Linked DNA regions of Homo sapiens. The protein of the gene in region 2 interacts with the protein of the main gene of each other region in a biochemical or structural test. Each region holds a gene or a part of one and is shown on either strand. Other genes may lie near its edges.

Region 1 (3,657 bases), on a different chromosome or scaffold from region 2:
TGGCTAGGTTCAGTAATAAATATGTGAGACCTTTCATTTTTTAAAAAAAAAATCATCCTTAACAATCCCAGTGTCCTGGAAGAAGTAAATGATTCAACTTTGGATATAGTTACCAGGTCTATTGCTAACAGAAGTAAAGATGAAGAAGGTATGCAAAAATATCATAAGAGAAAAACTATTCCATGGCAACCAGCCCTGCCTCAATAACAAAACAACATCAAGAGGACTGAAAGAGGAGGAGGAAGGTACCTGCTGTTTCATGTTTTTGAGGCGACCTTCCAATTCTAGGGCCTAGAATCATGCTGTGAACATTGTGACATTTAATAAACATTTGTTGAATGAATCTGGCCACTCTCCTTTAAAAAATTTTTTACTAATTATCCACTCAATGTGCTAAGCATTACAGGAAAAAGAGGATAAATAAAGCCTGATGTAATGGAGAAAAGACACTTAGAATGTAAATAACTGGCAACGCGGTGGCTCACACCTGTAATCCCAGCACTCTGGGAGGCCGAGGCAGGTGGATGACTTGAAGTCAGGAGTTCAAGACCAACCTGGCCAACATGGGGAAAGCCCATCACTACTAAAAATATAAAAACTAGCCAGGCGTGGTGACACACATCTGTAATCCCAGCTACTCGAGGCGCTGAGGCAGGAGAATCACTTGAACCAGGAGGCAGAGGTTGCAGTGAGCCGAGATCATGCCACTGCACTCCAGCCTGGGCCACAGAGCAAGACTCCATCTCAAAAAAAAAAAAAAAAAAGGAACGTAAATAACTGTAACATTACATGTAAAAATTATGAAAGAGATACCCTAACTGCCTTCGGGACTAAAGGATGTCATGAGTTGACAACTACTTAATAGTTTTTAAATCTGAACTACTAAATCTTAATGAGTAATCATAACATTCATATTCAATTTTTAAACTACTAGTAAAGTTTGTTTAGATAATGCTACAATCTATACATTTGTAACATCCACTAGCAGGACCTCATGTCTATCAGAGCGGACACAGTATTCTTCTTCTCCTAGGGCATGAAATGCTTAACTACATACTCAAGTAATAACTACAGTTTAACATATCTATTCTATGATATAAATAGTAGTACACACAATTATGAATTTTAATACACAACCAGTTCATCATATTCTCCTGCTATCTCAAGCAAAGAATTTCTAAAATCAGTAAAAATCAATAGCAGGGAGCTATATAGAACACTGCAGGGAATAATACTATCATGGCAGCAAAAATACAATTAATGTAGATTAAAGATAACTGCAAATTCTTTGTTACTCTCCCATTGAGAAACAGTGTCTAAATAAATGCCTTTCCCTTGAATCTGGCTGACCTTAGTGATTTGAGTGGGCAACAGAATTACAGACGTGACTTCCAAGGCTAGGTTGTAGGAGACTTGCTATTTCCACCCAGGTTCTCTTGGAACACCTATTCTCTCTGTGATCCCTGAGCCGTAAGTCTGAATACCCTGGGGTCTCCATGCTGACATCACATGATGAAACCACTAAGAAAGGCTCTGAGACTATATGGAGACACTTGCCCCATCCAGTCTCATCTCACCTGACAACTAGCTGTTCCAGCCCCCAGCCACTTGAGTCATCTCAGCTGAGGCCCCACACACCAAGAAGCAGAGGTGAGTCTAATCCACAGAGCCCTGTCCAAATTGCAGATTTATAAACAAAATAAATGGCTGTTGTTTTAAGTCACAAAATTTTGAGGTAATGTATCAGATAATCAGAATTACACAATGCTTCCAAATCCTTGACTAAAGATAAAAGGAAATCATTCAATCTCTCTTTGGGGGTGTTAATACAGATTCAGTTAGAGTGGAACAGTCATCCAATTGCTACAATTAACAGACTTGAATTGAAGAGCTGACCAAGCTACCTTTAATGATTTTGGTATAAAAAAGAAACACTATAAACTCAAATATCAGAAAGGAGGAAGGGGAAAATATTTGTACAAATTACCCTTATCCTTTTGATATTAAGCTTCGGGTTCTGTACGAGCACTTTGTTTTGCTACAAGGTGAGACTGGGCTAAAGGAAAGCACCCAATCAGATTTCTGTTACTGGTTAAAGGATGGTCCTTAACCATTTTGAGGAATCACGTACCCCTGATGAGACTATGGGTCCTTTCTCCTATTTAAAAAAAATATATATATATGGCTGGGCTCACGTCTGTAAACCCAGCACTTTGGGAGGCCAAGACGGGCAGATCACCTGAGGTCAGGAGTTCGAGACCAGCCTGATGAAACCCCATCTCTACAAAAAATACAAAAATTAGCCAGGTATGGTGTCATGTGTCTATAATCCCAGCTACTAGGGAGGCTGAGGCAGGAGAATCACTTGAACCCAGGAGGCAGAGGTTGCAGTAACCGAGATCACACCACACTGTACTCCAGCCTGGGCAATTGAGCAATGCTCTATCTTAAAAAAAAAAAAATACGTATGCACAAATACTCACAAAACACTCCATACAATGTAAGCGAACTTTCAGTCTTTATGGTCTATGGGCCTTAGGTTTAGAACTTATTTTAAAGGATTATTTAATAATGGTACACAAATCTACTAGATGATGTTGGAATTGTTAAAATTATAAAGAAGTGGGTTTTTTTGTGTTTTTTTTTTTTTTGCCAGGCACGGCACCTCACGCCTGTAATCCCAGCACTTTGGGAGGCCGAGGCGGGCGGATCACAAGGTCAGGAGTTCGAGACAGCCTGGCCAATATGGTGAAACCCTGTCTCTACCAAAAATACAAAAAAATTAGCTGGGCATGGTGGCTAATTTTTTGTGACTCCGTCTCAAAAAAAAAAAAAAAAAAAAGTTTTTTGTTTTTTTTCCTTTTCTTTTTTTTTTTTTTTTTTTTTTGGGACAGAGTCTTGCTCTGTCGCCCAGGCTGGAATGCAGTGGCATGATCTCCGCTCACTGCAACCTCCACCTCCCAAGCTCAAGCGATCCTCTCGCCTCAGACTCCCAAGTAGCTGGGATTACAGGCATGAGCCACCAGGCCCAGCTAATTTTTGTATTTTTAGTAAAGACGTGCTTTCCTCATGTTGGCCAAGCTGGTCTCAAAGTCCTGGCCTCAAGTGATCCCAAAGTGGTGGGATTACAGGCGTAAGCCACCCTACTCAGCCATTAAGAAGTGTTTCACTCAAATTCCAAAAACAATCATTTTTTCATTAATCAATGGAGGACCCAGCAATTGAAGTCTTGTGTGTATTTAATGTCCACCGATTTTAACCTTGTTATTACTCAATTTCACTATTTTAACACCAGACAATAACCTTCTGAGAGCTGCCTCAGAAAACACATCACTCTAAAATAACTTGATTCAAATTAAGGTTGTCTTCTTAGGACAGTGGTTTAGTCTCATGCTGATATTAAACAGTACAGGATTTGGAGATTCTTGTTCTCACTTATAAACCTCTTAAGATTAAGGGTTCAGCTTTATAACTCTTTTAAGTCTTTAGCACTCAACACTGAACTTGTACTGGGTCTTCTTTGTTTTGAGTCAGGGTCTCTATCGCCCAGGCTGAAGTACAGTGGCATGATCTTGGCTTGCTGCAACCTCGACCTCGCAGGCTCAGGTGATCCTCCCATATCAACCTCCTGAGTAGCTGGGACTACAGGTACAGGCC
Region 2 (3,657 bases):
ACATAGCAGATGGCCTGATTTTCTAGTTTGCTGCTCTAAATTTATATCAAACTGGTATTCACAGTTACTCCATTGGAGAAATGTCATACAATATCAATGTTTGTACATATCAATTAGGTACTAAATCTAAGTTTGCACAGGGAGTTCCGGTGATTAAAAAATTTTCTTTGGGCTTAAGAATTAGAAATGTGAATTTTAATTTTTAATAGCTCTAACAGATTTATGAGTATCTATGATCCCATTACTAGTCTGTAACAGAGTTTTTACTGGCATGCAGCAAAATAAGAAAAATAAGGACAGTGCTCTGGGTGGGGTGTGTGCACTTGTGTGCGTGTGCGTGTGTGTGTGTGTGTGTGTGTGTGTGTGTGTGTGTGTGTCAAGTTGCCATCTGTCCTTTCTTGGAAGGAACTCTCTTTTATTCTTTTCTATTCTATTTTTTCTTTTTTTTCAGAATAAGTTATTCTGAACTTTTCTCTTTCCTACTTTGCTGCTGTTAAAGTGTACTTAAAAAAATGGATTATGGTAGATTTTATTACATTTTTTTCCTTAAATGTGAAAATATAATTCCCTATTATCATTCCCCAATTTTATGCTGATTTATTGATTTTTGAAAAAAATGAACTATGTGACATGGTTGGAATTATATTGAACAATATTGATTGTTGGATATTATATGACCAACTTAACTCTTTATAGACAATATTTGAAAAAGAATGGCCCTAATTTAGTAAGAAGTACATAAGGTATGATGGTGACTAACAGCATTAGTAGCTGTCAAGATTTTCTTTAGTATTTTTCAAATAAGAGGGAATTTTTAAAAATATTTGAACTCATTAACAAACATTAATCAAGCAAATAGTGTTGATGAAGCACTATATTAGGCGTTGGGTAATTTTCTACTCCTCATGGCAGGTTGTTTTTAAAAGATTACATTCAGAGGAGTGGAAGCTAGGAAGCTTTTGACACCTAAGTAGTGGCATTGAGGGAGGGAAGAAGTGAATGTACTTAAAATACTCTTTGGAGACAACTGACAGATGTGGGTCATTGGCTAGAGGTAAGAGAGAGGGACGAATCGAATGATTCTCTCAGTTCATAATGGTATGAATAACCAAATAGAATGTATTTTGGAAAAAAGGTAAAGCAGTGGGCAAAGAGGTTCCCACTCAGGGGAGGAAAGAGAAATATGATGAGTTCTCTTTTGGCCATTTTAAGTTTGAAGAGCTTTTTTGAGACGGAGTCTCGCTCTGTCACCAGGCTGGAGTGCAGTGGCATGAACTCGGGCTCACTCCAGCCTCTGCCTCCCAGGTTCAAGCGATTCTCCTGCCTCAGCCTCCCAAGTAGCTGGGATTACAGTTGTGTGCCACCACACCCAACTAATTTTTGTATTTTTAGTAGAGATGGGGTTTCACCATGTTGGCCAGGGTGGTCTCAATCTCTTGACCTTGTTATCCGCCCACCTCAGCCTCCCAAAGTGCTGGGATTACAGGCGTGAGCCACCATGCCTGGCTGTTAAGATTTTTATATGTAATACTATGGATCAGGAAAGAAGGTTTTCCTCAGGATATTTTTTTTCTTTCTTTCATCCATATTGATGTTAGCAGTTAGCATTATTTTGTAAACTATTGTGTAATATTCCAACACACGGGTATGATGTAATTCATTTAATTCCCATATTGATATTTCCTAAATAGTGCTGGTCTTCGATATACATATTTATACACTTCTGTAAGTAGGATATGTTCTTTTTTATGTTCAGGGGTACATGTGCAGGTTTGCTATAAAGGTAAATTACATGTCTTGGGGGTTTGGTGTAAGATTATTTCATCATGCAGGTAATAAGCACAGTACCTGATAGGTGGTTTTTCCATCCTCACCCTGCTCCCACCCTCCACCCTAATGTAGGCCCCAATATCTGTTGTTTCCTTATGTCCACCATTTCTGGTTCAGAGTGTGTATATTTTAAATTTTGACGACTGTTTTAAAATTGTCACTCCAAAACATTAAACCAGTTTGCATTCCCACTGTGTGAGAGAGCCTGTCTCCCAGTATCCTCCCTAGCCCTGGACACTTTTTAGTAGTTTTTCACAATTGAAAAACTGGTATTTTAGTGTTTTGATTTGCATTCCCTTAGCTTCGAGTGAAGTTGGATATTTATATTGTTCTGTAAATTTCTTGTTTGTGACATTTGCCCATTTTTTAAGTATTGAGCTATTTGTATTTTTCTTATTACTTAATAGAAAGTTTAATGTATTGTGGATATTAACACTTTACCTATAATATCACATATGCTGCAGATATTATTTTCCCAGTTTTTCATTTGATTTTATGTTGGTTTTGTTTTCTTTTTATAATGTAGATTTTTTAAAGTGTTGGGCAGGGAGGATCTTATCTTTTCCTATAAGGTTACTAGTTTTCTGACAGGCTTAAGACAGGTCTTTCCCCACTCTAAAGTTAGCCAGTTTCTTTTATAGTTTTTCAAGGTTTCTTCCTGATTGGTTCAGCAGCTTCACAATATGATGTGGTTACAATCTAACCGTTTCCTTATTGACAGATATTTAGGTTATCTCTTTTTTAAAAATTATTGTGGACAATATGACTGTGAACATCCCTATCTGAACAATTTTGTAGGATTATTTTCTACTAGAAGTAGAAATAATTGTCATGGGAGTGCCATAATTTTATTTTCACTGGTGATTATAGTCGATTTTTATTCAGTTATGTGTGTGTACAAGATATGTGGTGAACATGTTTTACTTTGTTCTTAAGTTTACTTGTGTTATAGCAATATGTAAGGAAGCTTAGCTTTCATTTTCATTGAAACTCTCCTTTATAGATTTGAACAAAATTCACTTTTATTGGCTCTGCACATTTTCTAGATAAATCATATTTGTGTTGTTTTTAAAGTATGCATTTGTACTGTGTCTTTTATTAAGAATAACTATAATTCATTTTCTACAGATTTCAAATGGTAATGTTTTTTAAGAAAAGTTTTAGGAAAATTTTCCTATTCCTCTAACATGTTTGTAGGAAAAACATTAGTCCTTATCTTATAAGTAGAAACACATTTGCTGTTAATCATTAAATGACACCTTATATCCTTAGATTTGCAGGAAAGCATATCCAGAATCCATCGAACAATTGAATTAATGTACTCTGACAAATCTATGATACAAGTAAGTGAAATTTTGAGCTAGTAATCATTGTCAAAATTATTTACATATATTTTAATTTACCTTTACATTATCTTAATCTAATTTTTCTTTACATGTTTTGTTTTAAAATTTTGGCAAATCTTATTGTAAAATAATAAGGGCTTGCAATATGTACAATGTGACAGTTCATCTGAATGGGGAAACTTTTATAACAAATTTATAACAAAATTCATGACAAGTTTTCCCCATTCAGTTGTATTTTCACACCGTATGTGTTGTGTACCCTTACTATTTTACAGTAAAATCTACCAAAGTTTTTCAAAAGGCTATAGCATCTTTAAAAAGTCTTATGGGAGAAAATCTATGGTTGTTAAAGGATATTAAGATTTGGGAAGAAACTTAAGGACTCCATTACATTTTAACTTCTGGTGTATATCATATAATCTATTTTGTTAACCGTCAATTTAGAATTCTGAAGATGTAGACACATTTGCTATATGTAAAA
Region 3 (3,657 bases), on a different chromosome or scaffold from region 2:
TATAACATGTATACATATACATAAATATATATATGTGTGTATATATTAGAAGACAGAAACAATTATCAGTCATTATGAAAAAAATTAGATCTATATGCAGAAACAGTGACTGGCAATTTAAACTAGTTCAATTTCTCTTTTCAACATTGGGTTTTTCTCCATTTGAATGTTACTTATATCTTCCTATAAAATATACCTACATTTTTGGCATAAACATGATCAAAGCTGTTAATTTATAGTTATTCTGAAACATACATTTCAAAGTAACAGACTGTAGAAGGCTGCTTTGCCACTGACTAGTTAGGGTAAGGCTGGGACTAGATTTAATTTCTGCTACAGAATATTATTCCAAATACATCTGTGAGGTATCTATACATATCTGATTAAATCCTAACCAGGCTTCTCAGATCTGTGTCAAAAATAGAATGCTACTACAGTTAGAATGTTTATGTACATATATATACAGACACAATCACAACAGAAAAAAATCGTTTAATGTTTTCACATTTTAATCTTCAACAGTCAGTATCATTTTGACAGTCAGTTACAATTTCAGTAAGAGGTTACTTACTTTGGAGTTGTAACTAAACCACTTTTTAAAAATCTGCTGTCTCAACTTAAGGCTTGTTTAGCAAAAGCATCTTGCAGATAAATACCTTTCACGGTACAAGTTTCATTAGGAGGCATTGCCAGTAGTCGGTCACCAGTTTGGATATAACCAGCTTCTATTTTACCAGTTATGCAAAATCCAGATCCTTGATCTGCAAAACATACCAAAATCTTATGGTTCATACAGCAATGTTATCTGATGATTAATACCGTTAACTATACTTAGTTCTCAAGTAGTCATATAAAACTAGTAGTTCAATGGACATTAAATAATAATCATTTCAGAATTAACATCTCTACTAAATATGGCATACCACACTTTACTTTTTTTTTTTGCAAATAAAAATACTCATATTACCAAAGAAAGGTTCATTCCTTTCTCAAATATTTATTGAGAAATAATAAATACGTAGTACCAGATATTATACTAAACTCTGGGGATAAAAAAAAATAAAAATGTAAGTCCCTGCCCATAAAGATATTATACTAGTGAAGAGAAAGATGGAAACAATTACATTGTCCTGAGACAAATAATATGTAAAATATACAATAGAAACACAAAGGTGCACCAAAGAATCCATGATGGTGAGAATAGACATCTGGCACTCTGAAGAAGGAATAAGTGTTTATTAGGTAGCTTGTATGCATGAGTAGGGAGAAAAAGGAAGACACTGCTGCCCCAGGAAACTGTGTGGGCAAAGGCATAACCAAATGTGGGATGGGCTAAGAGTCATGTGTCACTTGTGGGGGCCATGGGGAGGGGACCATATAGAATAATGAAGAAAAGGTAAGACAGGAGGCAACAGAGATAGGCAAGGGAGAAATAATAAAGGGGTCTCATAAATCACGCTTAGGGTTTAAATTTCATCCTGCAGTTAAGTAATAGGAAGCCAGTAAATATTGTGACCGGAGAAGTAAGGTGATGGTATTTCTGTCTTAGAGTAGAGGCTGATACAAATGCACAAACTTACTACAGAAAGGGAATAAACTCAAGAATTCGGGAATAAGGAATAACAAGTTTGGAGTGGTAAGGAAAGTGAAGACTAATGACAGAAAGGGGAAAATGTGAGATGATGATGCATTAACTGTGAGATATGAAACTAAGGACAAGATCCATTTTAGGCTTGGTAAATCTGAAGTGTCTATGAGACACACACATGCAGAAGTTGCATTCCGGGGGGACCAATCACACCACATTCCATGAGAATGGTACCCCTAAAAGAACACTCTCCCAGGAGAGATGTCCAGTAGTGCTTAGACAAGTGTGTGGAGAATGAGTGAAAAGGTTTGGGTTGGAGATACAGATTTGGGAAGCATCAAGATGCAGAAGGTAGAGACACTCATGGATGTCAGTTCAAAAGGAACTTGAAGACTAAGAAGAGGACTGAGGCAGCAGAACACTGTTTAAAAGACAGAGAATGAGGAGCCCATAGAGAAGATATAGAGAGGTCAGAGATAGACAGGTCAGAGAAATAGACAGGTTAACAGGAGAAAGCAGGTCACAGAAACCAAGGGAGGAGTTTCAAGGTGGATGTGGCTACCAGCATCAGAACCAATGCCAAATTCAAGTAAGATAGAATTGAAAGTGTATATTGACTTTGGCAACCAAGAGGTCATTTCATGACCTCAGGAGGAACACACTCAGGAGAGCAGCGTAGGCGGAAGCCAGGAAGCAGCCTGAAGGGGGAACAGAAGGTGAGAAAGTACAGTCAGCAAACACTGTTAATCAAAGAAAAGTAACCACCTCTTGTATTCTTGATAAACAATGGGCATCTTGGAAACTATTAGCATATTTCCTCTATTACTAGAACACTGGAAGCTAATAATGATAATGATAAATTTTGATTTCATTGCATGATTTTTTCAAAGCACCTTCATTCATTCATTTTTTTATTCATGTGTTAAATGTATTATGTGCCAGGCACTGGGCTAGGGCCGCAGATATAGATAAAGAAGAGATAGTACTTGCCTTCAAGGAGTTCATAATCTAAGTGGGATAAACAGACAGCATAGAAAAAATTATAATGCTGCATGAAAGCACAATGACAGAGGATACAGAGAATACAGAGGGACGCGTCAGGGCATGTGCGCAGGTAAGCACGCCGGTTACCAATTTACTGCTGCTCAGTTCCACATTCACTCTGCATTGCTGGCTCTGTGACAATGGAGATTTAGAGGACAAATGACATCCTTACAGTTTTTATTATTGTAATAATAAATCTTATATCCTTTTATTTATTGAGTTTTTAAATTGTATTTCCACTTTATAGTCTTCTATATAGGATCTTGCCCTTATTAAGTTAGATATATTCTTAGGTATTTAATATATCATCTCTTCCAGCAAGCTCTGAACCTCTTCTACGTTGGTCCTTCCTCAGCCCTATCTATAAAGTTTCTGTATATCTTTTAGTTGCATTTTTATCATAGTTAATAATTCTTTATATTACATTTCCCATTTCACCTATGTATGGTATCTAACTCCTAACTGGACCCAGACTGTTACAGATGGGGAGGAAATGGACAAGTAAAGAGAAAGAACAATACAACAGGGAAGCACGGGTAGACATGTGGCAATAAACACATCCTGTGTGGTTAAGAAACAATAAACAATCCAGTTTGGTTGAAGGATTTGAAAACTAAAGGAATCTAATGGGAGAAAAAAAAACTATAAAGTTAGAAAGACAAAAGGCAAGGTTTTCTTATGCTTGAAAGATGAGAAATGGTGAGTAAACTGAAGGTTTTCCTGGACAGGGAAGCTAAGTGACTAAATCTGTGCATTTTAAGATTAATCTGACAGTGATCCTTACTTGGGCATGGAGAGGAGAGACTCTGAAGGCAATATACTGTCATAACTTAGTCCAGGAAAGGAGGTTAGGAGGGAATGGGGAAAAGGGGCTATACTGAAGAAGCACTACAAAGGTAGCACTTACCTTTGAAAACATCGGACACACATAATCTAAAAGGTTTGTCAATAGATCGCTGGGGAGGCTTAAAGGAATCTGGAAAAAAGAAATTGCAAAAGGCAAGGTTTAATTTAAAATTAAATTT

The links.
Region 1: the proteins of USP25 (region 2) and SUMO1 form a complex in vitro, tested with the Homo sapiens proteins (2 studies listed by BioGRID).
Region 3: the proteins of USP25 (region 2) and HBS1L interact in a test that uses a peptide from one of them, tested with the Homo sapiens proteins (one large-scale study listed by IntAct).

Annotation. Positions count from the first base shown.
Region 1 is NC_000002.12:202,232,001-202,235,657, forward strand, and holds part of SUMO1 (small ubiquitin-related modifier 1 isoform a precursor), read right to left. Parts: intron 45-3,657; exon of another isoform or gene 1-44. UniProt on the Homo sapiens protein: Ubiquitin-like protein that can be covalently attached to proteins as a monomer or a lysine-linked polymer.
Region 2 is NC_000021.9:15,827,429-15,831,085, forward strand, and holds part of USP25 (ubiquitin carboxyl-terminal hydrolase 25), read left to right. Parts: intron 1-912; coding exon of another isoform or gene 913-923; exon of another isoform or gene 924-1,257; intron 1,258-3,102; coding exon 3,103-3,173; intron 3,174-3,657. UniProt on the Homo sapiens protein: Deubiquitinating enzyme that hydrolyzes ubiquitin moieties conjugated to substrates and thus, functions in various biological processes including inflammation and immune response.
Region 3 is NC_000006.12:134,981,802-134,985,458, forward strand, and holds part of HBS1L (HBS1-like protein), read right to left. Parts: intron 3,609-3,657; coding exon 3,540-3,608; intron 762-3,539; coding exon 657-761; intron 1-656. UniProt on the Homo sapiens protein: GTPase component of the Pelota-HBS1L complex, a complex that recognizes stalled ribosomes and triggers the No-Go Decay (NGD) pathway.